3 separate regions of the Homo sapiens genome follow, and regions 1 and 2 are each linked to region 3. A link means that fine-mapping ties the variant in region 3 to the expression of a gene that starts in the linked region. Tissue or cell type: testis. Region 3 holds a variant in brackets; each other region holds the start of a gene. All regions are shown on one strand. Distances are from middle to middle.

The links. PIP is the estimated chance that this variant, and not a neighbour inherited with it, causes the effect.
Region 1: it holds the start of PODN, and the variant in region 3 is fine-mapped to the expression of PODN in testis (GTEx, PIP above 0.99).
Region 2: SLC1A7 starts here. The variant in region 3 is fine-mapped to the expression of SLC1A7 in testis (GTEx, PIP above 0.99).

Annotation. Positions count from the first base shown.
Region 1 is chr1:53,059,022-53,067,021 of GRCh38, reverse strand. It overlaps PODN (podocan), which reads right to left and starts at 4,809. Exons shown (of 11, transcript NM_153703.5): 1 at 4,714-4,809. RefSeq lists a silencer at 4,644-4,831.
Region 2 is chr1:53,138,941-53,146,940 of GRCh38, reverse strand. It overlaps SLC1A7 (solute carrier family 1 member 7), which reads left to right and starts at 4,303. Exons shown (of 11, transcript NM_006671.6): 1 at 4,303-4,626. The coding sequence starts at 4,492.
Region 3 is chr1:53,111,777-53,119,776 of GRCh38, reverse strand. It overlaps SLC1A7 (solute carrier family 1 member 7), which reads left to right. Exons shown (of 11, transcript NM_006671.6): 3 at 4,804-5,019. It overlaps LOC105379783 (a long non-coding RNA gene), which reads right to left and starts at 4,948. Exons shown (of 4, transcript XR_007066089.1): 1 at 4,864-4,948; 2 at 4,197-4,465; 3 at 3,545-3,666; 4 at 1,156-1,381. RefSeq lists enhancers at 3,615-4,597, 7,934-8,000. The variant T/C (reference allele first, on the strand shown) is at 3,779.

The DNA of each region.
Region 1 (8,000 bases), 53 kb after region 3:
CATTAGCCACTTGCCCATCTGACCCCACTGTAGTCCGGGGTTCTAAGAGCGAGAGTGTGGGCACAGGCCCAGGTCCCAAATTCAATCAGGGCAGAAGGCCAAGGAGAAGAATCCAGGGGAAGGAGCTCTGGTCTCACATATCCTGTGCACATACCAGGCAGGCTGTTCTGCCTCCTCGCCTTCCATTTGGTATCTGTAAAAATCTGTAAACTGCATCAATAAAAATATTGAATTTATATTAACATTCTGCACCGTACTGAAAATGTTATCATCACCACTTTACAACTCAGGGAGCTGAGCCCAATGGGGTCAGCCAGTGAACAGCTGTTAAGTGGCAAAGCTGAGCTCCCAGCCCACGTCATATCAACAATGCTACGCTGCTCTCCCCTAGGCCAAGCATGACAGGAAGCAGGGGACCCAGACAGAAGACTCAGCGTGGCTTCTGCCCTTCAGAGGCCCACAGCTGCACCGTTCACTCCATTAGCCACTGGCCACATGTGGCTACTGGGCACTTGAAATGTGGCTGGTCCACATGGAGATGTAAGTGTAAAATGTAGTGTCCATAGATCTCAAAGATGTCGTACAAAAAAATAATGTAGGATACCTTATTAATATTAATATTAATGACATCAAATCCCATTTATTGTTATATTGATTACATGATAATATTTTGAACAGGTTAAATAAATGTTACCAGTTTCATTTTACTTTTTAAAATGTGGCTTCTGACTAGACAAGGTGGCTCATGCCTGTAAATCCCAGTGTGGGAGGCTGAGACAGGTAGATCACTTGAGCCCAGGAGTTTGAGACCAGCCTGGGCAAGATGGCGAAACTTCGTCTCTCTAAAAAATACAAAAAATTAGCCAGGTGAGATAGCATGCACCTGTAGTCTCAGCTACTCAGGAGGCTGAAGTGGGAGGATCACCTGAGCCCAGGAGGTTGAGGCTGCTGTGAGCCGTGATCGCACCCCTACACTCTAGCCTGGGTAACAGAGTGAGACCGTCTCAAAAAAAAAAAAAAAAAAAAGACCTCTAGAAAATTTTGCATTGCATATGTGGCTTGCATTTGTGGCTCACGTTACATTTCTATTGGACAGTGCTGGTCTGCAGCATTATGTATAAGCTGAGTATTATAATCCCATTCTAAGGGATGACTACCAGGCAAAAGGGAAAGGGTCATACAAGCAAGGGGGTCAATGTGTGCAAAGGCCCAGAGGCAAGACAGTTCACACTCACAAGACTGTCAGGTGGGGGATAGGGACTAGGAGTGATACAAAAAGGCACAGTCGCCACAAGCCCAGGCCACAAAGGAGAGACATGAAGGGCAGGTTAGGGAGTGTGGTCCTTATCACTGGAAGACGAGGACCACTGAAAGGCAGGAGCGTGACACAGGCAGGTTTGTGGGTGGACACGAGGGTGCGCAATTGGGACAGGTGAGGGCTAAGGGGCCTGCCCCTGGCAGAGAGAGAGGTGCTGGACTGCAGGAATGGAGGAAGAGGTAAGAAGGACAGACAGGGCTTGGAGAGTGGTCCCTCCAGCTTCGCCAGCCACTCTCAGGGCTGTGAGGCACTGGGAAGGTCCAGCCCTACTACCTGGTTTGCCGTGTGACCTTGGCCATACCACTGACCCATCTGAGTCTAAATTTTCCAACTTTCTTTTTTTTTTTTGAGACAGGGTCTCCCTCTGTTACCCAGGCTGGACTGCAGTAGCACAATCATGGCTCACTGCAGCCTTGGGCTCCTGGGCTCAGGTGATCCTCCCACCTCAGCCTCCCGAGTAGCTGAAACTACAGGCATGTGCCTCCACACCTGGCATCTGGCTAATTTTTTATTTTTAGAAATGGGGTCTCACTATGTTGCCCAGGCTGTTCTTGAACTTCTGGCCTTCTGCCTCGGCCTCCCAAAGTGCTGGGATTACAGGCATGAGCCACTGTACCCAGCCTTGCTCTTCTAAGAATGGAGCAAGATAAGCCCCCCAAGGCCCCTTCTGTGTACCCAGCCATGTGGGAGGTGTGTGGGGAAGAACAGGGGAGCTCCCTGGTCTCCAGGAGTTTCAAGTCCACCTGGTGAGGAACATCTCAAACCCCTGGACAGCGGGGAAGCTCAGCCAGCAGTGAGTGTTTCTCATATGGAGAGCTTTAGAGACAGAAGGGCATGGGTTCCAATTCTGACTGCTGTGTAAGCCTGGATGAGCCACTTTACTGCTCCGAGCCTCTGTTAACTAGTCTAAGAAATGGAGTTGGGAGCTACTTGTGAGAATTAAATGAAATAGCAGTCTCAGCCTGTCACCGCTGGCATCAAATAGGTGTGACATACCAGGGGTTACTGTTACTGAGAAAGTAAGTGGGACCCACTGTCTCCCCTGACCACTACCAGGGAACCAAACCTCAAGGCCCAAAGTGTGAGGTTAAGGTAGGACTAGAAGAAGGAAGGGAAAGGGAGCCCCAAATCAAGAGGCGGATCCTCAGCCCTCAGCACTACCTTCCTTCTCCACTCAAAGTCAGTACAAATCAACTGACCACCTGCTCTGTGCTGGGCCCCAAACAGCTGCATCTTATTGACTCTAATAGAAATCCTGGGACTACATGTTCGTCTTTCTATTCTGCAGATTTGGAGCTCAAGCACAAAGGGCTGGCATTGCTGCCCATCCCTAGAAAGCTCCTGCTGAAATGCCCCTGCTCAGGGAAGCCTCTCCTGCCCCCTTGGCTGGGTTAGGGTGTTTCTGGGTGCTTCCACAGCAACCTTGGCTGGCTTTATCCTTCAAGTCTCAGCTGGGCCTCCCCTGTCTCCCCAAGCATGGAGTGGGGGTGCTGGGGAAATGTTTGCTGAATGAACGACTTTGTGAAAGGCAGAGTTGGAAAAGATCTAAAGATCTGCAGTATGATCTGCTCTGACTCCCCCAGTTTGCAAATTAGTGTGTTAAAGCCAAGGCCAAGAGTAAAATGTGGGTCTTCTGACTCCTGCCCAGAGCCTTGAGTTGGCCTTGAAGACTGAGCGGGAGTTCTCCAAGTGGACGGAGTGGGAGAAACAGCCCTCCAGGCAGAGGTAGAGTGTGATCAAAAGGTAGGGGTGGGGCTAGAGGAGAGGGACGTGTGTTTAAGGAAGGGTCAACAGGGCGGGAGGCCTGGGTGGCCAAGGGCCTCCACCGCCATGCTAGTGTTGGTGATAGGGACTCATTAAGGGTTCCAAGCAGGACACGGCCAGCACTCGCATGTATGACTACACCAAGCCTAAAAGTGCCACCATTAGTAATCCCCTATCCTAGACTCAGACAGAAGGGATAAAGTGTGCTCCCACAGATGACATGAAAACAGTCGTGTGACTCTGACATTTCTTAACTTGCACTCTAGGCTAGAGTAGACTGGGTCTTGGGCCCTAAGAGTGGACATGAGGGAGCAGAACCCCCAGAGCAGTCCCCCCTGGTCTTTCCCAGGGCAGTCCACGGGCTCTTCTGAGTGACCTACCTCGGAATGCTGTGCGCCTGCAGATCAGCCGGCCTCCTTGCTCACCATGAGCCCTCCTGCCTCGCCGCTGCCTTCCCAGTGTGGAAGGTTTCTATATAAAGGAGGGATAGGGGACGGGACCACCCAGGGGCTCTCCCGGTTCACACCAGTGGCGCCTCGTGGAGCAGGGCAGACCACAGCTTCCCCTTCCCTGGCCAGCCGGTAATCGAAGGGCAGACAGGTCAGTAATTCACTCCAAGCGCTGGGTGAGCATCCTCCGCGCCTCCCGGACCAGCTCAGTCAGTGCCGCGCGCACCGGGGCCGGGGTGCTCGCCCCTTGCTGCCGCGCCTGCTCCTCTCCAAAAGGCTGCGGCTGCCTCTCCTAGCCCCAGCCCCCGAGGCTGCCAGGAGCCTCGCAGCCCCGCCACCACCTCCTCTTCCACCTGACGGAGCGTCAGGTATTCCAACGCCAAGATCTCGTCCCCCGCCCCAGGCCGGGCTGTGGCTCGGGGACCTGGAACCTGGGGCTTCTGCCTCATTCGCAGGAAGGCGCGGATCTCGCTCCTCGCGCTTCGCGGACCCCCACCCCTTCCTCCCTCCAGCTGTCCCGGCTGGGAAGCAGCCGCGTAGACAGATAGACGGACTCCAGACCGCCAGCTGAGACCTTTAGCTCAACTAGTGGTTGGCACTAAGCTGGGGCGGCACAGTGGCCGGGGAAGCCGAGCCCCGGAGGGGACCCACCCGGCGTCCGACGCGCCCTGGGGCCAGACCTCTGCCCCTCTCTGGGCCTCAGTTTCTCTATCTATAAAGAGGTGGAGGTTGGAGTCGCTAGGGGGCCTGATGAGTTGACGTGGAAAGACGCGGGGATACTTCGGGCCCAGGCTCTCATGACAGGGGTCCCCGCCCCTACGCAGTTCCACCTGCCCCCCACATTCCCTGTCGCCCGCCGGCGTCCTCCCACTCCAGCCCCCGCCCCCAACCGCCCTCAGATTCTTTCCAGATGTGCGCAGCGGGAGGGGCCTGGGGACGGGGACCAGCCTCTGCTCAGAGAGGAGAAGGCCCCTGCCTGGGTCCTGACTGCGCAGGGGTCGCACTCCAGAGGAGGAGATCTCCGGCCGTGCCCTGGGTGCAGGGTCCTACAGAGGGGGTGAGATGCGGCGGGCCCGCCCCAGGCAGCTGCTGGAGCCATCCGGAGAGGCGGGGACGTCTGAGTGCGCTGCCCGGGCTCAGCCCCCGGCCCCTCGGCCCACCCCGGCTGCCAGCGCCCTGTACCTGCTGCGCCCCGGCGCCGAGCGGCGCCCCACAGGCCGAACGCGCTCCCCCAGTCTCAGCTGCGCTCCGCGGGCTCGGGCTCCTTCCATTCAAGTCAAGCTGGGCGCTCTCCGCGACGCAAGTTTTGTTGTGGGTTTTCTCCTCCCCGCCTCTCTCCCGCCCCCTTCCCCCACTCCCCACCCGCCCCGGGAGCATCTGCTGGACGCCGGCCTCCTTCGGACACAGGCGTAGGGTCCCCCCAGGCGCGGGCAGGAGAAAGCCTGCCCCTCCCCGCTCGGGACTTGGCCGGTTCCCACTTCCCGGGGAGGCAGAGCCGCCGCACCGACCCCTCTCAGCCCCGGCCGCCGCACCACGCCCCCCGAACCCCCACCCGGGAGACCGGGAAGGCGGGCTGTCTGGTCCGCGACGCTTCCTAGTTCCCAGCCTTCCGCACTGGAACTGGACCCCCTTTAGGCCCCGACACCTGAAAGGAGGGCTGGGGAGAGGGGTCCTTCGACCCAGTGCCTCTGAGCTGTATCTTCCTCATTACAGAGGATGTTGCAACCGCTCCAGGCACGAGTACCTTTCCGTTCACTCTCCCACCCTGGGGTCCTGGGCCGTGGCTAATGGGGCCGCCAGCCAAGACCCTGCTGGGCCTCTTCCCGGAAAAGTTCCCCACGCTCCACCCCACCCTCCACTCCCATCCCTGTTGGCCCTGGGCCCACAGCCTGGTGAGCCTTGAAGAATGGTAAATTGGGCCGGAGTCGGGGACATGCAGATCCCAGTCACAGAGAAACAGGGCGGGTGAACAGTGAGACCTCACACCACCATATTGCTCCCAGGAACTGAAAATGTTTCCAAGTAAAGGAGTATTAACTACTACCAGCTGAAGCAACACTGTTTGGCGCCAGGGGCTTCGGCGGTGGAACAGGCAATGCGGCTGGGCTTAGGTGGTACTTGGCACCTCCACTGTGTAGCAAGCCTCCTCCCCTTACCTGCTCTGGCCTGTGGGCAGGGCATCCACAGCTGCCTCACCTGGCTGTCCTCCCACTGAAGAGGGAGAAGGATGCATAAGTCACACGTGGGACCCCTTGCTCAACCTTAACCTGAATGAATGAATGAATGAATGGCCCCTGTAAAGCAGCTCCAGACTTTTCACTGGCTGCCGCCCCCGTGAGGTTATACCATATGCATTATGCTCTGCTTCACAACTCCGCAAAGGAAGAACTGCTGCTGCCCCACTTTATAGAAAAGAGATGGCCTCAGAAAGGATACTTGACTGAGTAAAATGCCCATTCACTGGCAGAGCTGGGGTTTTGACCCCAGGTTTACCCTTCTCCACAGCCCAAGTTCTTCCCATGATGGAAACAGGCAGGTAACTTGAGCAGGCAAATGTAGAGTCTAGATTTGAACCCAGGACTGTCTGTTTCCATTACACCAACAACCCAAGAACTTAGCAAGAATGGGGAGGGAAAATATTTTGCCTTCTTTGGCCTCAAATTCCAGTCCTTTTGGAGCTCAAACTCACAAGAGTTGGTGTGATTCACAGCATTGGACCTGGACCAACAGAGATGCATCTCGTGTCTTCTCCTGAACATTGAGCCTAGATTCAAGTAGAGCTAAAAGGACAGGATTCTACTAGCTTGAATACTCATGGACTAAAAATCTTTTAGGACAATGAGAGCCAGCACATATTGAGTGCCTAATAAATGACAGGCACCATCCTAAATCCTTAAAATATCTTAATCATCCTAGCCCTGTGGGGAAGATATTCTCTATACTTATAACTGCTAAGGCCAAGGTGTTTCAGGGGCCCGCTACACGGCACACCACACACCCAGTACCCACCACCTCCCAGAGAAATAGGCTTTTCTATGGAATGCTGAGCAAATGCCCATGTGTGCTTTGTGGTTGGCTGCTACTATAGATACAAGCTGCAGGAGGAATCACTTTGAGTGTCTCTGGTGGAAAAATGGAGGCAACCTTGGTGCTCTAGAAGCAAATCCTCTTTCAGAAGGATTGTAAAGGCAGAGTTTGAAATTGAGGTTTCCTGAATCTACTTGTGCTGCTTCAATTCCTTCATGCTGCCCCTCAATTTCAGCTCCTGTTTGATATTACTGAAGTACATAGTGTCAAGTACAAGCTTTAAGCTTGGAGCTGGGTTCAAATCCTAGCTAGGTTCAAATGAATATAAAAATAGTACCTACACTTCACAGTATGTCTAAATTGGAGAATGCAAGTACAGAACTTTACATAGTACCTGTCACATGGTAAGTGCTCAGTAAATGGTAGCTATTACTGCAAAACTATCACCCAGACCTGACCAAATAGCCAGGAAACATTATTAAAATAGAAATGACAAGTGGCAAGAATTAAACAGTAACCTCTGTACTGCCCAGGGAAAGTGCCTTCTAATTCAAAACAATAAGAAACAAGAACACTCCAAAGAGGAGGGAGGAAAGACATACATTGATACGGTAGAGAGAGCTAGGAGTAAAGAACAAGAAGGCTCTCAGTGGGGTTTGATGATGAGAAACAGGAGATGAGGAACAATGAGCTCTTGTTATGCCTCATCATCAAAGAAGAAAATAATTCCTCCTACTTTGAGCTGAGGGCTGAGATCTTATTAAGCAGTAGAGTCCCAAATAGCTATGGCAGCAGCTTGATTTTCTGGACATTTAAGGAATCAAATCACATGGTGGTGTTTGGGGTATATGAATTCCATCTGAAGGACCTTGATGAAGGCAAGACTCTCCAGGGAACAAGAAGAGAATAATGAAAAATCTTCAGTCCAAGTCAAGTACACAAGGAGTCTCCTGGGCTGCTATAACATCTCATACAGACTCTTTATTATTGGAACTTTCTTGCTGTTTTTCCTCTTTCTCCCACTGGATTGTGAGTCCTCCAGGGCAAGAATCTCATGTTCTGCAAGCTCTCCTCTCTCACCCTAAAATACCACTGTGATAGGCAGAATACCCCCCAACCCCGCCCCAAAGATATCCACACCTTAATCCCTAAAACCTTTGGATATGTTACATGATGAAAGTGACTTTGCAGATGTAACTAAGGTTACGGACTTCAAAATAGGGAGCATATTCTGGATTACCCTGGTGGGCCTAATCACATGAGCCCTAAAAAACAGAGAACTTTCTCTAGCTGGAGAGAGAGAAGATGAAGCAGAAGAGGAGGTCAGAGAGATTTGAAACATCAGAAGGACTTGACTAGCTTTAAAGATGAAGAGGGTCATAAGCTAGGGAATAAGGCAGCCTCTAGAAAGTGAAACACCCGTAGGCTGCCAGGAATGGTAC
Region 2 (8,000 bases), 27 kb before region 3:
GCTGGTCTGAAACTCCCGGGCTCAAGCCATCTTCCCACCTCAGCCTCCCAAAGTGCTGGGATTACAGGCATGAACCTCTGGGCCTGGTCCTATTTAATTTTGATTAATTTCAATTTAAGTAGTGTAATGGATGCTATGTAATTGTACTGCACAGACTTAGAGCCCCCAGGCTTGACTGACCCAGTGAATGTGGAGGGGTCCCTGGCTCCCCCTGGTCAGGGCCCTTCTAGGTGAAGGTGTCAGAGTACCCAGCCAGAGCCTGGTACACAGTCGGTGCTCAACACAGAGCGGCTCAGGGGCTTATGGGCGCCCAGGCCTCATTTCCATTAAGTGACAGATTTAGACGGGGGACTGGAAGGGAAAAAGGAAGGCGTGTGTCTGAGTTGCCACCACAGAGTCACTTTCTCCCATCCTCTGAGGCAAATGTGGGAAAGGACTAGCCCTCAGCGAGGTCAGGACAGCCCCTCGGTGACTAAAGCTCGCAGGAATCCACACCCAGCTGGATCAGCTGCATTTGTTGCCCACAGAAAACCTTCCCGGAAGGGCCCAGCTTCCAGCGAGCTGGGAAGACGTGTCAGGGAGATTAAGGCGCCTCTGGTATGTCTCTGGAAAGCAGCCAACATACCCCGAGCTGTCGTCACGACAGACCCAGATGGGAGCTCACCCGGCCAGACCTAAACTCATTTTGACACATGGTGGAAGGTGTAAGGCCCCAGCCCCGATGGCCACTGCAGCCCACCGATGCACTGCTAGCCCTGGGAGGCCCTGCTGTCACGCCTCCGGCCTAAATCAGACTGTCGTCTCCCCTCTCCCTTGACCAGCACCCCCTTCCCTGGCTTATTGAGGCCTCTGCCTAAACCACGTCTCCTCTGGGAAGCCTTCCTATCCCCGCCTTCCCAGGCTGGGTTGGCCCTGCCTGTAGCCCTGGCGAATCATTAATCATTAATCATTAGCAAATAAGTCAACCCCTGCTGCTCTCCCCACAGCATAACCCAAGCAGAGGGCCCGGTGAAGAACAGCTCAACTGCACACCTGCTTCTGCAGGGTGAGGCAGCTGCACCTGTGACTTGGCGTTCATTTTCGCCAACACCATGTCTCTTCTTTGCCATAGCATCTCAGTCTGTCCAGCTCAAGCCTCCCCAGAAGCATCTCTGAGGCCGCCTGCTGCCCATTATACAACACCTTGCTCCTCAGGCTATCCCTAGCACCCCGCTGCCCCTGCCAATATACCCTCCAACTTTGAGGATTCTCCATTGAGGTGATTTCAAATGACATGGTAACAAACAGAGATTTGATTTTATTTTCATAGATTCTTATTTCCTTGTCAGAGCCACTTAAAAGGGAGCTAGGTGAATCCCCAGCTGGTGACTGTGAAGGGCCTGAGTTAGAGTGAGAAAAAGAGAAGGTATTGTATCTAGGGTAATCAGGGAAGGCTTCGAAGAAGAGGGGGATTTAACCTGTAACTTTCGTGACAAGGAAGGACATTCTAGGCCAAGGAAATAGCACAGGCAAAGGTGCAGAAGCCTGAGACAGGATGCAGCGTTCCAGGACCCTGCAGTGGTTTGGTGTCATAGGAGCTGGAGGGGTGACGGAAGGAGTAGGAGGTAATGCTGAAAGGGTGAGGAAAAGGGTGAAAGTGCCTTGCAGGGGAGCATAGACTCGATGCTGCAGACCGGGGTTTCCCAGGCGTGTTCTCCAAACACCAGGCCCAGGGAGTTCTCTGCTCCAGAGGAGGGGTGGGATTCTCTATTCTCCACTTGGTGACTTCCTCCGACACAGCCGCTACTGTAAAGACTTTCATAGTAACTACCTGGGGCTATCTGCAAGGCACTGGGCCACGCTCTAACCATGGCGCATGCAGCACTGTATGACCCACATCAAAACCCTATGATCTAGGTACTGTTGCATTATCCCCATTTTACAGGGAAGTTAAGAAATGTTCCCAAGGTCACACAGCTGGTTGAAGGTAGAGCTGAGGTTTTAACTCTAGCAGTCTGACTTTGAGCTGTCTCAGAGGAAATAACGTGCTTAACTTTTTGTTTCGTCCAGCATTTCCCAAACTTCCTTTTGATGTAATTATGGAAAAATTGTCTTGCACATCTAGTGACATTGTAAAAGGCAGTTGATTCTTTGTCAATGGTGAACTATTATAGGGTTCTGACCCAGGAGACTTGATTTGATTTGCAAATATTCTTAGTAAACTCATTATCAGTCACTTACACTTTAGTGTGAATTAGTCCGTTCTTGGGGTCTCTCCACTTTCTTATAAGCTTCCTGAAGGCAGGGCAGGTACTGTCTGATTCACTGTTGTGTTTCTAGTACCCAGGGGGTGTGGCACACTAAATGGTGCTATAAGAACATTTGCTAGAGTGAGTTGAAATTCTCCTGTTGAAGACCGTAGGAACAGTGGAAAGAATGGCTGTAGTCTGGTAGGCAGGTAGTGGTAGGCTCAGCCTGTGGGAGAGAGGAGTCAGTGGTGGCTATAGGGCACGTCCTGGGAATGGGAGTCATGGAGCTGTGGTAGAAAGCAAGACTCACCTATATCATGGCACAGCTAAAGGCCAGGTCTGGGCTGGGTGTGGTGGCTCATGCCTGCAGTCCCAACACGTTAGGAGGCCAAGATGGGAGGATTGTTTGAGCCCAGGAGTTGATCAAAACCCAAATCCAAATACCTACTTAGCATATTTTCTCTTCTGGGAAGTAACTAACCACCTGATTATTTGGAAAATGAGGCATTTGTTGGAGTTGAAGGTGTAGCAAGAAACTTTTGGTTTTAAGAGTCAAAGTCAGAGGAAAAAAAACTCTCAGACTTGTATTCACCCCCACCCCCCACCCCAAGCTACTGCAAAGAGCAGGGGCTTTGGAAGATTGGTTTGTTGAAATGAAGTTCCTTTGACAAAGGTACCTGGGCCCATTTCTCTCATTCTAAAAAGGACAAGACTGATACCCAGAGACGGCAAGGTCACAGAGCTGATTAAATTGGGATCAGAATCTTCTCAGTCAGGAGCTCTGTCCATGGCTTCAGAGCCTGTGCCCCAGTCCCCTCTCCCCACCTCTCCCCTATGCCCCACTTGGCCCGTCCTCTTCATCCTCTGCCCCTGTCTCCTATGTCAGGAGGAGGAAGCCCCTGTGTGCACCCCACCCTTTACCTCCCACCCTCACTGCAGACTGCACTTCCCATTCCCTGCTGCCTGCTGCCTGACTGCTCCTAATGAGATTACAGATCTCTGGTGAAATAGACGAGGGTTAATTCCCCCAGGCTTTACAGGGCAGGGCAGGCCAGGCCACAAGAAATAGCAAAAAGACACCTATTCTCCAAAGCACTAAGTGTGATAATGACCCTAAGAGTCCGTTCCCCTGTTCAGCACACCAGGGTTCACACTGCGTTTCCAAATACCCTCTGGGTGGAATTTTGTACCAGCCCTAACAAAGTAGATGCTGTTATCATCTCTATTTTACAGATGGAGAAACTGAGGCACAGTGAGATGAAATGCTTGTCTGAGGTCACACAGCTAGTAAGTGGCAGAGCTGGGACCCGAATGTGGGTCTCTTGGGCTCTGTCATCTTTAAAAAATAATAGGCCCAGAGAGCCTGCAGGGTGCCCAGCACCAGGCTTGAAACAGCCCTGAAGCATCTACGTCCCATTTCCCGGTGAGTGGCACAGCCCACCTTTGAACTCAGGTCCCCTGGACTCGAATCTACATTCCCCACAATACTGCCAAGCACCCTTGAACCTATCTGCCTGTTCATGTGGTGGAAACAGACTGGCCTAGCCCTGACTTCTGACCTCTGTGACCATGGCCAAGGGACTGGCTTCTGGGGTCTCAGCCTCCCTTTCTGAAAAATGAAGGTGGGAACCCTGGGATCTTTGGGACAATTCCCTATGATTGGCATAGCTAAGGCAGCCAGCACAGGCCTGGCCCGCAGCACATGCACCCACCCACCTCAGTTTCTTTATCTGTAAAATGGTGATATTAATAGTACTTATTTCTTGGGATTGGTGTTAGGATTAAATATGCCAGTACATGTAACACTCTTCTAGAATGGCACCTGGTGCATAGTAAATGCTTAATTAATGTTGAGGGAAACTGATATCTTACTGTCTTGTTTTTGATTCTTTCTGGAAGGAAGCAGGGGTAAAGATCAAACCAACCAAGCAAATGTTCCTCTTGTTCCTTCCAGTACCTGGTCCACTCAACTGTTTAAGAGGAACGCTTGGCTTTGAGGCCTGAACTCCTAGACCACGTGGTCTGCTCTAATTTCCCAGGCCCTAATCTGCTCCCAGCTCCTAATGATGCAGCTGGTAATAGGATTGTGGCTTCCCTCTAAGGCGGCCACACGGGCATGGCCGTGGGGCTGGCGACTGGTGTTTAGCAACTCCGACCACCTGCCTGCTGAGGGGCTAGAGCCCTCAGCCCAGACCCTGTGCCCCCGGCCGGGCTCTCATGCGTGGAATGGTGCTGTGCCCCTTGCCAGCAGGCCAGGCTCACCATGGTGCCGCATGCCATCTTGGCACGGGGGAGGGACGTGTGCAGGCGGAATGGACTCCTCATCCTGTCTGTGCTGTCTGTCATCGTGGGCTGCCTCCTCGGCTTCTTCTTGAGGACCCGGCGCCTCTCACCACAGGTCAGCCACCCAGAGCATCTCGGGACCCCTGTCCAGGAGGGGCGTGTGGGCCTGAGGGATCTGGGGTCCCGTTCTAGCATCACAGCTCCCTGGTGCCATGACAGTGTGTGAATCCCTCTGCCTCTCTGGGTCCTGGTTTTCTCATCTGTAACATGGGTGTGATAAACACTTTGCAGGACTAGAGGGAAGAACCAGTGATGTGGCTGGGGAGTGATTACAAACCCAGCACCATCAGGTGAGGAGAGGCGAGGGTGCCTCATGATGACAAACACAGGGCCAAGAGCTGTGGCGGGGAAAGAGGGGGGTCTTGTGTGAGTTCAAACAGGCACCAGAGAACACCTCCTAAAGGCTGCTCAAATGACAAGAGATCCAGGAAGCGTGCTCTAGGCAGAGGTGACAGCAGATGCCAGGTGCAGCGGCCGGAGCGCAGAGGCCAGCAGGCCCATAGGTCCCATCGCCACACGTGGGCTTGCGGCAACCATGAGATGCTTTTGGGCAGAAGAGCGACAGGCCAGTTTGGAGCTTGGGAGACCCCTCAGGTGCTGAGTGGAGAGGGGGTGATTCTGGGGCAGGCAGGGGGCCGAGAAGGGGCAGCCTGGGGGAGATGCGGCAGTGCAGACAAAAGGGACAGACGTGAGAACTGTTTTCAAAAGGGGGAGCTTCAGGATGTGGGGGCCGATTGGATGTGGGCTGGGGGACAGGAAGGGGAGCCAGGCCCCGGGTTTCCAGCCTGTGTAACTGCCATGAAGAAGCTGCGTTTCCTGGGAAAGAGCCCCTTTCCCTGTCAGCCCCCATCTCCTACAGGAGAGGGAGGGACATTCCCATGGTGTTAAGGACAAAATCATTCTGCCACTAGTTAAACTGGTAAGGAAGGCTCTATTCAGGACTATTGTGGTAGGGGGGTAGTTATCAAGACCTCCTGGGGAGAGAGATGGGACCCAACCACAAATACAACAAAGATGGCTGGAGATTTATAGCCAGCGAGCAGAGGGAGGGGGTCGGGGACAGAAAATGACTACAGGAGACATCAGGGTAGGGGGATTCTTGTTGAAGGCAGGCCAGGGTGATCAGACATTGATCTGGGATGAGGAATTTGATCCAGTATCAGGATGCTGGAGGGTGAGGGATCCTCACTAAACTGACTTGGCAGGACTTTTGCTACAGCTGGACTATGCAGGCTGAAGACAAGGCCCAAGGACAAAGCCCAGTGGAAAAGAGGGCTCAGAGGAGCCTGTCTAAAGTGTGGTCAAGGAGAGAGGCTTTGTCAATGGGCTCCTGGAAGAGTCCCTATTCCCAGAAAGTCCTCTTCCCGCAGCTCACTAATGTCTAATGCCATCTCTACAACTGGGGTCAGGCATTAGACTTTGTCTTCCATTAAAAGGAAAACACCCACTCCTGGAGAACTGAGCCACGACTATAGTGACCCTGTTAAGCCTCGAGCAGTTATTTAGGAAGAAGCATGGACTCTGGAGGCAGAGAAACCCTGAACTTTGACTCTGCTAGCAAATGGCTAGGCAATATCCTCTCTCCTCCCTGGGCCTCAGTTTCCTTGTCTGTAAAATGGGATGTGGGGCAGTATATGTCTACTAGAATTATTATGAGGAATAAACCAAGGATTCATCAATGCCCAGCATACAGTAGGTGCTTACTACGTGTTACTTCCCCCTCCCTCCCTTATGTACCTGTTAAAGTCCTATCTACATCAGGAACCATCTCATCATCCATAGCTGATGAAAGTAACTGTAACCCCGCTGCTGGCTGCCTGGCTTCAGAGCTGGTTATATGGGTGTCTCTTTCTCCCACCAAGCTGCATATTGCTGAACAACATATGGGTTTGTTTTTTTTTTTAACCAAAACGTGAGCCTAGCCCTGTGTCAGGCACAGAGAGAACGCTCAACTATCTGCTGCATTAAACTGGCAATGGAACAAAAAAATCTGCAATCTGTTCTCTTTAATTTTCCTCAGCAACAAAAATATATCTCCTGCAGGAAGATTATTTTGTGAAAACAAATTGGAATGCCTATTATTAAAAGCCAAACTCATCTGGGGCCTACTTTGCCAAAGCTGCCTTTCCCATCTGTTTGGAAATGCAAATGTATTCCAGTCTGGATTAACCTGCCAGATAAATTGAAGGAAGGATGTAGAGGCTTAGAACAATTATTTGGCAGAAACTGGCTTTCTCAGCATCTTACTTTGAAATCTGGGATTTCTCTGTTTGATCTCTTTGCCTGTGACTCAGAAACTAAACACTTCTTGTTTTGTAAGCTTATGCAACAGGCAAAAATCATAAACAATATGGAAAATGGTAGAATGTTCTATTTGTGAAAAAGAACTTTTATCCTTGATAAAATCACAGGATTTTATCTTGGTGTATGAGTGTCTCATTTAAAAATACTGAGCATTTTGAGACTTCCAGTTAAACCATGGTGAATCACAGGTGTATCCATTTTTTTCCCTCCTTCCTAGAATTCCACTAACATTTTAGTAATGGGATTTTTAAAAGGTAAAACCACCAAGAATAAAGAGAATATAAAAGGAGACAGTTGAGAAAAAGAAATAGAGAGGCTACAACAAATTAGATAATATGGAGGTGGGTGGAGCTGATGACCTCATTCACAGAAAGCTGGAATCTTAGTCTGTGGAAGTTGATACCAAGTCAGTTTGTCTTGCAGACTCCAGAACGTAACAGAGCAAGATGCTGCACTAGGCAGGGTGAGGCTGGGGTTGAAAGCCTGGGCATGGTTTGGAGTTTTGTAACCAGAGCAGTTAGACCCCTAGGGACCTTCCAATTCAGTTGGGGGACTCATCCACCCATCTCCACCCACTGCCTGCCCCAAGGAACCAGAGAAGCTGGACTTGAGGGTATTGGGCCACCCCTGTGTGTGTTGGGGAGAGGGCCATGCTGAGGCACCTACTTCAAACTAATTAACAGACATCCTTGTCTGAGTGGGGTCCCCAGCACGGTTTCAGATCGCTGTCAGCTGAGCTTAGGCACCATGTCATTCCTCAGCCAAAGGCAGGAAGAGACTTCTCTCACTGAGGCCTCAGAGAAAAGATCTCTAAATTCTGCTATAAAGGAGACTCCTCTACCATCCCACCCAGCCCCAGTGAAAAAGCCAGATCAGCACCTGTCACCCTGCCCTGAGGGCCGTCAGTTGACAAACCCTACTCATACATGCAGAAGTTTAGCGCTTCAAACTTACATACGAGCAGAAAGCCACGCCACCAGAAATGTGAGGAGGCTCCTAATGTGAAACAGAGTAAACGAAGAGAAAAGGGGGTCTCTAATGAGAGAAACAAAGAGAAAAGTGGGTCTCTAGTGAAGCAGAGACAAGGCGGGGAGGAGAAGGAAGCTTTGTAAATCTCCTCTTAAG
Region 3 (8,000 bases):
GGATGCCTCCAACAATGGGAAGCTCACCACCACAAATCTGAGGCTCATTACCAAGGGCAGGCTGTGAACTCCGAGATTGAACTAAAATGGCTTTACATGGGCTGGATCACATTAAAATCATAGTCAGCTGGGCTGGGTGGCTCACACCTGTAATCCCAGCACTTTGGGAGGTGAAGACAGGAGGATCATTTGGGCTCAGGAGTTCCAGACCAGATTGGGCATCATCAAGATACCCCCATCTCTACTAAAAATTTTTAAAAATTAGCCAGGCATGGTGTCGAGTGCCTGTAGTCCCAGCTACTTGGGAGGCTGATGTGAGAGAATCATTTGAGCCTAGGAGGTCAAGGCTGCAGTGAGCCATGATCGTGCCACTGAGCCCCAGCCTGGGCAACAGAGTGAAACCCTGTTTCAAAGAATTAATAAAAAATAAAATCATAGCCCAAACCAGATCTTTTCCCCCACCACCAGAGTTAAACCAGGTTTGTGCCACAGACAGGCACTGTGGGAGTGGGAACCCCACAAGGTTCTGAATCAGAAATCCCTGTTCCAATCTTGACATTATGGTTCACCAACTGGAGGGCCTGGCCAGTTGCCTCCATCTCCCTGTGCTCCATTTTCCCCATCTGTAACTCAGAACTATTGTATTGGGCTGTCCAATACAACAGCCACGAGTCAGAGGAGGCCTCTGAGACCCAAAAGCAGGCAGTGCAACTGAGGAACTGAACTTTTATTTAATTTAATTTAAAATTTAAAACCTGAAGCAATATAAATTTTTTTTTGAAACGGAGTTTCACTCTTGTTGCTCAGGATGGAGTGCAATGGCGTGGCCTCAGCTCACTGCAACCTCTGCCTCCCAGGTTCAAGCGATTCTCCTGCCTCAGCCTCCCAAGAAGCTAGGATTACAGGCATGCGCCACCACACCTGGCTAATTTTGTATTTTTAGTAGAGATGGGGCTTCACCGTGTTGGTCAGGCTGGTCTCGAACTCCTGACCTCAGGTGATCCACCTGTCTCAGCCTCCCAAAGTGCTGGGATTATAGGCATGAGCCACCGTGCCTGGCCTAAAAATTTTTATATTGATGACATATTGAAATGATAATATTTGGGATAAACTAGGTTAAATAAAGTATTAAACTTAATTTCACCAAAAAACTAATTTCACCTGTTTCTTTTTACTTTTTAATGTGACCACTAGAAAATTCTAAATTACAAATGTGGCTCGCAGTGGAACTCCACAGTGCTTCACTCAGAAGGTTAAGGATCCACTGGGCTGGGTGTTCAGGTGTCTGGGGAACAGTAAAGTCCCAGAGAGATGATGGCTTCTGAGGCTGCTGGGTCCTCCAGGAGGTGTCATCTCCATCACACAAGAAGACGGGCTCAATCTAGAAAGAATAGAGAATGTGAAGGACTATTCGAAACAAAACAAAAATTACTTATAACACCCAAAGATAATAATTACATTTCCTATAGAGTTTGCTTGTTTCCGTGCCCGTCCACGCGACCTGGTCTCCCACCACCACTGGGCACCAGCTGCAAGTTCTCAGAAAAGTCACCTTTAACAGCTTGACCTTGAAGCCTGGGACCTTGAGGAGCCTCAGCAGGGAGGAATCCCTCAAAAAGCCAAAGGGCAGGGCCTTACACCTCCTTTCTGTGCCTGTGAGCTCTGAGTGGAAGCCACGACCTCTGCATGCCCAGCTCCCATTCTTCTTGGCCTCCGCCCTCACCTGCGGTGGCCCTGGCACTCCGGGGGAGGCTGGCCTGTGCTGCCAGCTGTCACCAGCAGTTCCCGCGGCTGCTCACCTCTCCCTTCCGCCATTTGTGGGAAGGGAGGGAGGCTCCAGCACAGAACGACTTGGGTCCCAGGATTCTCTCCATTTCGTCCATGGGTGCTCTCCTGTCCAGAGCTGATGGGGGCCCCAGGGTGGGGTCAGGGATCCCTCTTGCTCTGTCTAAAACCTACACTCCCTCCCACATCTCAATCTGTCCCTGAGTTGGCGCCACCCCCGTGTTAGGCCTCTTCGTCCCCGGTGGGGGGCCTTCTGAGGGGCCTTTATCCTTTCCTGAAATCCAGTCCTCACCTGCACCCCACTCCACACAATCCCTCAGACACATCTATGTGCCTAGACTGCAAATCTGGAGGGAGTCCACCATCCCAGGAGGTTCCAGGGCTCACTGCAGAGATGCAAACAATCTGGTAACTTGCTTTTCCACTTAGCATTGATTTAGGAACACCCTTCCAGGGACACGATCACTCCGGATGGCTGCTATACCGTCCCTTCCTATCTAATCTGCATTGGTGAGTTCTTAGGTCAGGTTTTTGATCTTACAAGTACTACTTCAGTGACCCTCCCAGTACACCATGTGTACTTTGATCTTCTCAAATGGAAGGAATTTTTCGTTCTCCCTTCTAGACATCCAGCAAATTCTGCTGCCTGAGTTGTGCTGAAGTGCCACAAGGCCACCCTACTCCTGAGCTCAGCCTATCTTCTCTATCCCTTCTATCACCAATCTGTCACTAACCCTCAGATATTACCTGAGCTCGGGCCACATCGAACAGCACGGTGTCTCACACTTTCCAGCCTCCCTTCTGCCTTCCACTGTCTCACTGCTGCGCATGTCTGCCCCATCTCCAAATCCTCTCCCATTTCCAAGAGCCAGGTCAAATGCCACCTCCTCCAGGGAGCCCTTCCTGACTTTCCTAGCTCGAAGTGATTCCCCCTTCTCTGAACAAAGACAGCATTTCCTTGTCCCCGCTTCCCTTGCGGTTCTGATGCTCCCACATAGTCCAGGGGCCATTTGAGTGCACTTGTGGCCCAGTGTCCTTTCCTTCTCCCTCCCCATTCCCTGGCAGATTAGGAACTCCTTGAGGTCAGGGACAGGTTCTGATTTCTTCCTGTGGGCACAGGGCATGGCACGGAGTGGGCATGTGCGAAAGGTTTGAATGCACGTGAATGAAGGAGGACAGGCCTGGGTCTGGCCCTGAGTTCTGGCCCAGCCGGGCACTGCTGTCCTGTGTGACCTCAGGCAGGGCCTGCTCTCGGGTACATGGCTTCCCTGTGGCCTGAGGCGGCTGGACCCCACTGCGGGGGGTTCTGTCATGGTGGGAGGACTGTTTGGCCCTGGGTTGACGCACCGGCCCTGCGTGGGATAATCTCTCTTTGATGATGATTGCAGGGCAGCCCCCCATTTCCTCTGGCTGCACAATCCCATTATGAGCCCTTCAGGATTTATGTCTAAGACCCACCCTAAGCCCATCACTAACATATGGCATCCTGGCAGATGAGGATGAGCAGAGATTGTAAACACTCATTCATTCATTCACTCACTCCTTCACTCAGCAGTCTGCTACCAAACTGCGGACCCAGCATTCAATCAGAACCTGGCCCAACCCTGGAGGTGCTTCCAGTAAAGAGTCCGCAGTCCAGTGAGGTGGGGGCAGGGACAGTGGGAGGCACAGGGACTGTGGAGCCAGAGAAGGAGGCTTCACTCAGCCTGGTGGTCAGAGACGGCTTCCTGCAAGAGGGGATGCTCAAAGTGTGTCTTACCAGAAGAGTAAGCCATTGCGCCAGCGAGCAGGCAGGGCAGGGCCCTCACAGGCGGTGGCTCCCGCTGGGGGAGGGGGCCGGTGTTCACGCTCAGCCTGGGGCTGGATGCTGCTGCATGGAATCTAATGATAAGAGGAGCGTGGCTGGGGATTATCTGCTCTTGTTTACATGATTAAAACCAGACAAATACTTCTTTATCTGAAAGAATGAAAGGGCTTTGGGGAAAAATCCTTT[T/C]GTCAACAAAGCAAAGCACAAGCATTTCCTTAATTAATCTCACTTCACCCCACACCCCCCACCGTCCCACACCCCCCACAATGGCTGCAAGAAGCGTTGCTCTAGGGCTCCAGGGCTCCAGGGCTCCAGGACGCCAGTACTCTGGGGCTGACCTGCACTGGTAGGCAGAAAGCCCAGGCCAGGGTGGCTAGGGGTGGGGAGGAGCCGAGAGGAGAGAGACCCACAGCCCTCTCAACACAGCCCCCTGTGACAAGGAGCCTGGGCCCAGGCACAAACCCAAGATGTCCCCATTTTACAGATGGAGATCCTGAGGCCCAAAGATGGGGAAGTGACTTGCTTGCCTGAGGCCACACAGCCAGTTGGCAGAGCTGGGACTAGGACCTGGGTCACCAGCCCCCAGCCCAGCGCTCTCACTCACTCCTCATTAGCTCGTCCAGGAGCCCGCAGGAACCGCCTGCGGTGCCGTCCTCTCGGGACCCACAGGGAAGTCAGACTCATCCCTCCTCTCACAAACAGACAGGCAGCGTCCTGATGGAGCAGCCAGGGGCTGTGGGGGTCCTAGAATGGGCTCCTCACTCTGGGGGAGAGGCAGGTAGATCTCAGAGGTAGACCAAGCTTGGTCCTGCCTGGCTGGGCAGGGGTCAGGAGAGTGAAGGAAGCTTCTGAGAGGACACCAAGCATGGGAAACTTGAGGCAACAAAGTAAAGCACACGCATTTCCTTAATTAATCTCTCACTCCCCCAACAGTGTCCCCACCATCCCACAGCCACCCTGGCCTGGGCTCTCTGCCTAGCAGTGCAGAGGTCTCAAGGCACAGATGTGTGTGGCCTGCGCCCCGGGGCGTGGGGGAGAGGGCAGAGCAGAAAGAGAGGCTGGAAGGAGCACAGGACTGGATTGTTGGAAGAATGGGGTTCCCTGGAGCACTGTGAGGCAGCTGGACATGGCCAGGAGGGGCTGAGTGAGCGCTGAGTGCCAGCCAGGCCCTGGCCTCCCCACCACAGCCCCTGACCCCCTCGCCCTCCCAGCTTGATGTCCGGACTTGCCTCCCTGGATGCCAAGACCTCTAGCCGCCTGGGCGTCCTCACCGTGGCGTACTACCTGTGGACCACCTTCATGGCTGTCATCGTGGGCATCTTCATGGTCTCCATCATCCACCCAGGCAGCGCGGCCCAGAAGGAGACCACGGAGCAGAGTGGGAAGCCCATCATGAGCTCAGCCGATGCCCTGTTGGACCTCATCCGGTAACTATTGCCACCCACACCCCGCTTGGGAACGCCAGGCCCGAGCCTGCCCTGCCAGGTCCCCCAGAGGCCAGGACGGGGTGTGGAGATGGGGGTGATCACGGAGTCCATGATCACCCTGGTGGGTTGAGCTCTGGGCTGCCCGCTGGGCTCATGCTGCATCGTCTGCCCCACCAGGCTAGAAGCACCTTGCAGCCTGGACGGGGTCTGCCCCTCTCTGCCTGTGGATGGGCGCAGAGCAGACATCTGTGAGCATTTGCTGATGCCCAGCCTGTAGGGTGGGAGGCTGGCTGTTATTGGCCCCTCCCTTTGTTTATTGGTCCTCTTTTTACAGATGAGGAAATGGGGCTCAAAAAGGTGCCGTGACTTTTCCAGAGTCACCGGTAGGTAGGTAGTGGAGACAGGATTCAACCTAGTCCTGTCTGACTCCAAGGACAATGCCCTTTGCCCTGTGGTGCCACCCCCTAGCAATGGCAGTGCCACATCCTAGCCACAGCAGTGCAGCTAACCTTGCTTCTCAGACCTAGGCTCCCTCTCCAGGGAAGCACTGCAGACCCAGCGGCACAGCCACCTTCCACTCCCTTTCCCCGGGTCCCCTGCAGGTCACCCCTGCTCCTGTCCTTCGTGCATTCGCTCCCTCACCAGTGCCAGTTCTGTGCCAGGCCCTGGACCAGGGGACTCAGAGCCAGCCCTTGCCCTGGAGGAGTGGTCAGACCCACGAGCAGACAGGGACAACATGGGGGCCTGGGGCTGCAATGGGGAAGCTGGGGCTGCCGGTGAGAGCAGGAAGCCACTGCCCTTCTAAGGGAGGGGAAGATGGGGAGGCAGGGAGGGCAGGCCTGGGGGCGATAGCTGTGCGAAGGTCCTGAGCTGCAGGGAACCGTCTGCGGGGAGAAGGCATAGCACCATCAGTGTGACACAGCAGAAGGGGTGAGAGGCAGGCAGAAACCCCTGCTGGAGAATTCAGGTGGGGACCGGCCTCAAAGTGCACCGTGAACCAGGCCAAAAGCTAAGTTGCATCCTAAAGGCCACAGAAAATGAGTTTTATACAGAGAAGCGGCATGATCCAATTCAGAAGGTTCAATCTGACCAGGGATCAGAGTTGCAGGGGAGGTAGGAGGGGAAGGCAGAGCCAGGGACAGGGCCAAGTGGTGGCCCTGGGGATGGGGAAGGGGGCAGATGGCAGGGCTGCTCAGGAGGGATCCTTAGCAGGAGGTGGGTGAGTAGGAGGTGAGGTGTGCTGATCACCCAGCATGAAGATTTCTGGCCCACGCATCCAAGTGGATGGTGGTGTGGTCACCAAGCGATGGATGGTCTGGAGCAGGTGCAGGCATCCTGGGGTAGGTGTCAACTGATGGTTGGCCAGTGGATGAGAATCTCATGGGGGAGTCTAAGCTGGAGACGGAGGTTTGGAAATCGCCAGGGAGAGGTGTTAGGTGCTACCCTAGTGGCAGAGGGGCTCTTGCAGGACAGGTGGTGAGAGAGCAGGGATTGGGATGGAGCCTGGGAAGCCCCACCCAGGAATGGTGTGCTGGGCTCCACAGGCTACCCCACTAAGCCCGCTCAGGGAACACCTTCTAGTACCTCTCACTTCCTGGTCAATTTCAGATCTAAGAAGTCTAGGCCTAACATTAAAACTCCAAACTCCTGCAGTTTAAACTAAGCCTGTCTTAGCCTTTTGGATCTGACTCAGACTGGGAAAGCTGCAGTGGGAAGAGGGTCGTGGTGAGTTTGTTTCTCTTTCCTGCTCTGCCTGCTCCCTGGTGAGAGGTGAGGGAGTGGGCTAGGAAGGGCTGCCCAGACTGGGAGAGGGGTGAGCTGGAGCAGGTGCTCCCTCGTTGTGTCTCTCCAGGACTACTTCTATGGGTTCTCTGGAGCCCCTCTTCTCTCTCGCATCTCTCACCTGCTGTCCCCTGGACTCAGGCAATTTATTCCATCTGGCTACTTACAACATCCCCTAGACCAGGGCTCTGGTTGACTCCTCTGCTGGGGTCACCTCACCCCTCTGGGTGACCCTGTTGGGTCATGTCTGGCCCATGGGAAGCATACATATCCCTATTGGAAGTGCTGGCCTTTCCCAGGGCCTTTGGACATGAGTCAGGCACCAGCCCCTACATTCCTCAAATTCTAAGAGACTCAAGCCAAGGTCTCTGAATAGTTCTCTTGGCTTAAGGTTGTGGAGAAGCATTCCTTTCCTCCCCCGTGGGGATAGATGCCCATACACAGGCTCCCACCCACTGTCTAAAGAAACTCTCGTTCCCTGTATCAGCTAGTTACTGCTGCATAACAAACCAACCCAACATTTATCAGCTTAAAACAACAGCCACAAGTCTATAGGTCAGCTGGAAAGTTCTGCTGGTTTGGACTGAGCTCACTCACATGTCTGCAGGCAGCTGGTGGCTCAACTGGGGAACAGTTGGTCTAGGGGAGTCTGGCTGAGATGATTCAGCTATACTCTGTGATCTTTGTACTCCAGCAGGCCAGCCTAGATTTGTTTCATGGTGGCGACAGGATTCCAGGAGAGAGCTAGCCCAGGCATTTTTTTTAATAACAAAGGTAGAGGAGCAAGAGAGGAAATCAAAACATGCAAATGTTTCTCAAGCCTCTGCTTTCAGCAAGTCCACTAATACCCTCTTGGCCAAAGCAAGTCAGGTGGCCAAGCCCAGACTCAGGGTGGGAAGGGACCACAATGTTACAAGGGAAATGGAGTCTACAAACCGAGGCCATCGATGCAATCAGTCTACCACTCCCTTCATTTCTCCAGGAAGATCTTCAGCTTCTCTTTTACCCTTTAGAGTGTGTGATGAACTAAGGATCATCAAATATTTGCCATGCTGTTCCTATCGCGTGGCTGTCACCTATAGGGTCTGGAGCCAGAAAGAGATCCAGGCAGGGTCTGTTCTGTGTTTGCTTACTTGGCTGGCAAGACTTCATCCAATACCAGGGCTTTGAACACCTTCTGGACTCTGGCACTTCCGAAT